2 linked regions of the Homo sapiens genome follow. The protein of the gene in region 1 purifies or fractionates together with the protein of each later gene. This does not show direct contact. Each region holds a gene or a part of one and is shown in the gene's direction. Other genes may lie near its edges.

Evidence for each region. The genes of interacting proteins can lie anywhere in the genome.
Region 2: the proteins of PRR11 (region 1) and UTP23 purify together in Homo sapiens (affinity purification with mass spectrometry; 3 studies listed by BioGRID and IntAct, with this or other methods). This does not show direct contact.

The regions. Positions count from the first base shown.
Region 1 is NC_000017.11:59,183,246-59,186,745, forward strand, and holds part of PRR11 (proline-rich protein 11), read left to right. Parts: intron 1-1,808; coding exon 1,809-1,959; intron 1,960-2,194; coding exon 2,195-2,317; intron 2,318-3,500. UniProt on the Homo sapiens protein: Plays a critical role in cell cycle progression.
Region 2 is NC_000008.11:116,769,524-116,772,353, forward strand, and holds part of UTP23 (rRNA-processing protein UTP23 homolog), read left to right. Parts: intron 1-668; coding exon 669-843; intron 844-1,932; coding exon 1,933-2,319; 3' UTR 2,320-2,830. UniProt on the Homo sapiens protein: Involved in rRNA-processing and ribosome biogenesis.

The DNA.
Region 1 (3,500 bases):
TCCCAGCAGAGGCTGTGTCTTCTCCACTCAAAGCCTGAAGCATTTTGGGGTCTCCTCTTCTCTGTACATGCCCATTTCAGAGTCCAGTCTGGTGGGAGAGGGAGGGTGGGAAAGAAAACTAGGGTAAGCAGAAACTATGAAACCTTACAAGTGTGAGATTATCATATACAAGAGATCCCAGGAACATTGACTTGATGAAAAAGTCACATCAGAGCACTCAATTTGGCAGAGCTTTTCTGCCGAATGTTTACTGACATTCACTGTCCGAGATTCTATACTGGGGGTACACGTGTCCTCTGCCGTAAGGCATCTTTGAGTCCAAGAGACATTTTGAGGCCTGAAAATCATAGGAAACTGCCCATGAGCTCACTCATATTTCCAATGGTGTCCCCAGTTTCAGGGAGTCCATGGATTACCTAAGGCCAGCCCCTCCAGTTCGGCTAAGAAACTCTAGTCTATATATTAAGTTTTGTATCATATGTATTGCTCTGAACTCAGAAATTTCCCTACCATTTATGGATTCTATGAATAAAATATCGCATGTACAAAAAGACTAAGTCGAAAAATCTCAGCTGTGCACAGTGGCTCATGTTTGTAATCCCAGCACTTTGGGTGGCCAAGGGAGGAAGATTGCCTGAGGCCAGCAGTTCAAGACCAGTGTAGGCAACATAGCATGACCCCATCTCTAAAAAAACAAAACCAAACCAAATTAGCCAGGTGTGGTGGCTGGCACCTTGTTCCAACTACTTGGGAGACTCATGCGACAGGAAGATCGCTTGAGCCCAGGACTTAGAAGCTGCAGTGAGCTATGATCTTGCCACCGCACTCCAGTCTAGGCAACACAGCAAGACGTTGTGTCAAAAAAAATTTTTTTGATAAAAAATAAAAGAGTTGGATGACATTCAGAGACCATCCAAAAAACCTGTCAGTTCCTGGCCGGGCTCAGTGGCTCACGCCTGTAATCCCAGCACTTTGGGAGGCCAAAGGAAGTGGATCACTTGAGGTCAGGAGTGTGAGACCAGCCTGGCCAACATGGTGAAACCCCGTCTCTACTAAAAATACAAAAAATTAGCCAGGCATGGTGGCGGGTGCCTGTAATCCCAGCTACTCAGGAGCGGGGACTGGAGAATCACTTGAACTCGGGGTGCGGAGGTTGCCGTGAGCCAAGATCGCACCATTGCTCTCCAGCCTGGGCAACAAGAGCAAAACTCCGTCTCAAAAAAATAAACAAAGAACCTGTGAGTGAGTTCCCATATGGCTTCCTAATGGGCTGTGGCTCTCCTAGGAGTCTCTTGCTCATGGGAAAGGCCCAAACTGAATGAGGAAGCAGATCCCATTGCTATGGAAGTCCCATTGGTAGGAAGCTCTGCTTTTCTGGAGTTCAAATTTCCATTCATGACGCTTTAAACCGCCAGAGCTGGGTGGGTCCTGACAAAACAGTTTGCTATCTCTCTCCTAGTTAACAGGCTTTCATATATTAGAAGATCAATGTTCTGACCCCATTAAAAGTTCTCTTTTGTGGAATGAAAAGCTCTGATTTAACCCATCTTCAAACCTGGTTTGCATATTCTTCTCTCTTCTGGCACACCACCATGCCTGATTAAGTTTTTTTTTTTTTTTTTTTTTTTTTTGGCAGGGACAGGGTTTTGCCATGTTGCCGAGGCTAGTCTTGAACTCCTGGTCTCAAGCAATCTCCTCACCTCAGCCTCCCAAAGTGCTAGCAGTAGAGGCATGAGCCACCACACCAGGCCAAGGCTATTATTCTGACTTAGGGGTTTTTTATTTGTTTCATTTTGTTTTTCCTACAGAGTCGGTATTTCTTCAATAGATATATCTCAAAGCAGAAGCTGGCTAACATCATCCTGGAACTTCAATTTTCCTAACATCAGAGATGCAATAAAACTTTGGACAAATAGAGTATGGTCTATATACAGCTGGTGCCAGAACTGCATAACCCAGGTATGGATGTGACATCCCTGTTTTCAGTGCTATAGTTTTTCTACACACTTGGTGTTTATATACATATGTGCTCAAGTCAGTCCAACCCTCAAGCTAAACTTAGATAAGATGAAATTATTGAGTCAAGTCTGCCTTTGCTTCTATAAAAACATACATCAAGTCACTTTCTGGTTCCTGTTTTCTTGTCCTTATCATATTACTCATAGGACTCAGAATTGTTTATTATTAATTTCAGAGTTTAGAAGTATTGAAAGACACCATCTTTCCATCTCGTATCTGCCACCGAGAACTTTACAGTGTAAAACAACAGTTTTGCATTTTGGAAAGTAAATTATGCAAGCTCCAGGAAGCACTGAAGGTTGGTATTGTCAAATAAAAAGCAAATCTGGAATTAGGTAAGGAGACACTTTTTTTGAAAAGACTATTGCAATAGGGAAAATGCTCAAGTCATAAGATTTATATCTCAAACATTAAGCGAAAAAGTTTTCTTTGTTAGCAAGGAATACAAAGGGTAGAACAAACTGGGTTATGGGGAAGTAAGATGAAGAGCTGGGATAATCTGATCAGATAGCTGATTGGATCAGGGAACATCTTTTCCTGAAGGTTCTTCAGCATACCAATGCTTGCTTAAGCCCAAGAATAGGTCAAGGTTCTAGGGCCTATGGGGAGGGCTAAATCCTGACTAAAGTTTGGTCAAGTTAGTAGATATATTGTCCAGATTGGTCAGTGGCAGTGAACAGTTCAGCTAATCACTTATGAGACAAAGAATGGGAATTTGGAGGGTCTGTGTCTGGCTTTGTCAGATAAATGAGGGAGCCATCCATAAAACTTATCTAACTGATGTGGAAAAAGTTGGTTCCACATCACTTCCAAAATAAAAAATTATTTCCTGGACATAAAACTGTGGGAAGATTTTTGTTTGTTTGTTTGTTTCTAGAGATGGGATCTCACTATGTTGCCCAGCCTAGACTCCAACTCCTAACTCCTGGGCTCAAGTGATCCTCCTACCTCAGCCTCCCTTAGTAGCTGGGACTACAGGCTTGCACTATTGCACCCACCTAGGATGGGGAGATTTTTTGGCCATCCTTATTTTCCAGAATCACAGAGCTCAGGTGAAGTTCAATATTGTCAGTATTAAAGCAGAAGATCTGAAAAAAATTTTGCCAGCTGTTTGTAATTTTTTTTTTTTTTTTTTTTTTTTTTTTTTTTTAGACAGAATCTCACTCTGTTACACAGGCTAGAGTGCAGTGGCATGATCATGGCTCACTGCAACCTTGACCTACTGGCTCAAGGGATCCTCCTGCCTCAGCCTCCCTTGTAGCTGGGACCAGAGGTGTGTGCCACCTGCCCGGCAAATTTTTTAGTTTTTTATAGGGATGGGGGTCTCACTTTGTTGCCCAGGCTAGTCTCAAACTCCTGGCCTCAAGTGATCCTCCTACCTCAGCCTCCCAAAGTGTTGGGATTGCAGGCGTGAGCCATGGCACCTGGCTTGTTTGTACATTTTTAAATAGCAAGTCAGACATAAAAATAAATTTATGCAC
Region 2 (2,830 bases), on another chromosome or scaffold:
GATAGCAGGACATCCACAGGCTGGCAGTACTCAAAATAGAGGTCAAGTCTAATGACTAAAGCAAGCAAAATCTTCTTGAAACAGAAAGATGATAAAGGAGATGAAGCAAGAAAGAATCTGGCAAATGCTGGCTAGGGTTGAGGAACTCTTATGACTAAATGTTTTTTTAAAAACAACTTGATGATGTGAGAAGTTTTACTGTTCTGAATTGAAAATGTTTTGAAAGTATACCAATTTGTACTTGAAGCAGAAGCTTATTACGCTATGGTTGGGACAAGGGAGCTGTTGTCAAACTGCAAGTCTCGGTACCACTTGCTAGTTACTTGAACTTTGGCATGTTACTTGAAATCTCAGAATGGGGTGCTCTAAAATAAGGATAATTTCAAGGTAAGCGACCTAACTTCATAGGGTTACTTTGAGATTAATCAAGAATTTATGTAAAGAGCAATTTGCATACTACATGGAACATAATAAGTGCTCAGTTAATTTTAACTGTTGTTCTTCCTACTTGGTAAATGCATTTTTCAAGTGATCTTTTAAAGTAAATGGTTACCAGATGACAAATTTAGATTGTAACAGCATAGTTTTATTTTAAGAAAAAATCGACTATTGTTTTTTACACCTTATGTAAACAAGTGAAATGTATCTGCTATAATTTTTCTTTTCAGATGTGTGTTAAAAGAGCTAGAAACATTGGGAAAGGACTTATATGGGGCAAAACTGATTGCACAAAAATGCCAAGTTCGAAATTGTCCTCATTTCAAGAATGCAGTGAGTGGATCAGAATGTCTGCTTTCCATGGTTGAAGAGGGAAATCCTCATCATTATTTTGTGGCAACACAGGTGATACTACTTTTAAAACCACAGGCAATTTTCACCATTTCTATTTATACTTCATATGGAGCTATTTATAATCAGAAAAAAGTTAGAATGATTAGACTTTTAAAAATACAGGCTTCTAAGTTAATTTGCAGTCAGTAAAAGCAATTGTCATTTGAGAATTTGAGGAAAACTTTAAGCATGTTGATATTCTTTTTAGTAGTGGAAGGTTGGGTTTTGTTTTTTTTAATGATTCCTTTGTTTTGCTTTTTTTGTTTGTTTCTTGAGACTTGAGGGTCTCACTATATTGCCTAGGCTGGTCTCGAACCCCTAGGCTAAAGTGATCCTTCCACCTCAGCTCCTGAGTACCTGGGATTACAGGTGTTTGCCATCATGCTGGACACTGGCAGAAGTTTCTTTTTTTAAAACAAGAAATTGTTGACATGAGATGTGATGATTTGTTGTAGGGTTCTTGAAGGGAAGATAAGTAGAGCAAAGTGCCTGTATTCTGTTAATTTTTTTCATGTTCCTGTATTTCATACTGTTTCTCAAAGTCATGGTTCATACTGCTTAAGACTGTACCAACAGTATGAAATATTTCAGGCTTTTGAAGAAAAATATTCCCATCTTCTTGAAGGCAGGAGAAGAGAGACTTTTGGGGGTGATATTAAGTTCACATACATACAGATTTGATTATCAGAATTATAAAATTACACAGAGGTAGAGCTGAATTTAGAATCTGAGTAGCTAATTACTACCCAGTTTCTTTTCCTTTAACCTCTTTAAGCATTCTTGACCCTTTCCAAAGAATATCTTAGAGTGGAAACAGGAGAAACCCACCTAACACATTTACCTTTGCATTAGTTTGTAATTTGTGGCTCTAGAGTATCGATAAATCCGGTTCACACAGCTGCTACTAACACTGTGCTCAGTTTTTATGTTTTTCTTCCTTTATCATGAAATATACCCCCATTACTCAAATGAATAAGTGAGGCTTACTCATTTGAAAAATAAAATCTGTGATCTCTTTTATTTTTAATACAGTTCTTGAAAACCTATTTAAGGTACCTTAATTGACATTTGAACTAAATAATTCTGTTTTCTTTTAAATAGGATCAGAATTTGTCTGTGAAAGTAAAAAAGAAGCCTGGAGTTCCTCTCATGTTTATTATTCAGAACACTATGGTTTTGGACAAACCTTCTCCCAAAACAATTGCCTTTGTAAAAGCAGTGGAGTCAGGTCAGCTTGTCTCAGTGCATGAGAAAGAAAGTATCAAACATCTCAAAGAGGAACAGGGTTTAGTGAAAAACACTGAACAGAGTAGAAGAAAAAAGCGCAAGAAAATAAGTGGTCCCAATCCTCTTAGTTGTTTGAAGAAAAAGAAAAAGGCACCGGACACACAATCATCTGCTTCTGAAAAGAAAAGAAAAAGAAAAAGAATTCGGAACAGATCTAACCCAAAAGTACTTTCTGAGAAGCAGAATGCAGAAGGAGAATGAATCCTTTGGATACTTTCAAGGACATTCAAATGTGAAAATGAATTTTTTACAACTAGAAGTATTTATAATAAAAGACCAAACTTATTTTTGTAAATGAACCCATATGCTTTAGCTAAAATTAATTATAAAATAAAAACAGTGACCAGTCTAGCCAGCATGGCAAAACCCCATCTCTACTAAAATACAAAAATTAGCTGGGCATGATGGTGCACAGTTGTAATTCCAGCTACTCAGGAGGCTGAGGCATGAGAATCGCTTGAACCTGGGAGGCAGAGATTGCAGTGAGCCCAGTTCGTGTCACTTCACTCCAGCCTGGGCAACAGAGTGAGAACATGTCTCAAAAAAAAAATAAAAACAGTGAATGGGTGTAGGTGTGATGGAATTCACTTTACTTACTAAATGGTTTCGGGAGGTTGTTTCTCCAGGTAAAATTGTCGCCTCTCTGGTCCCATTCCCACCTTCAAACATTATATGCAAACAGTTTTAAAAAATCTTACAGTTCTAAAAGGCT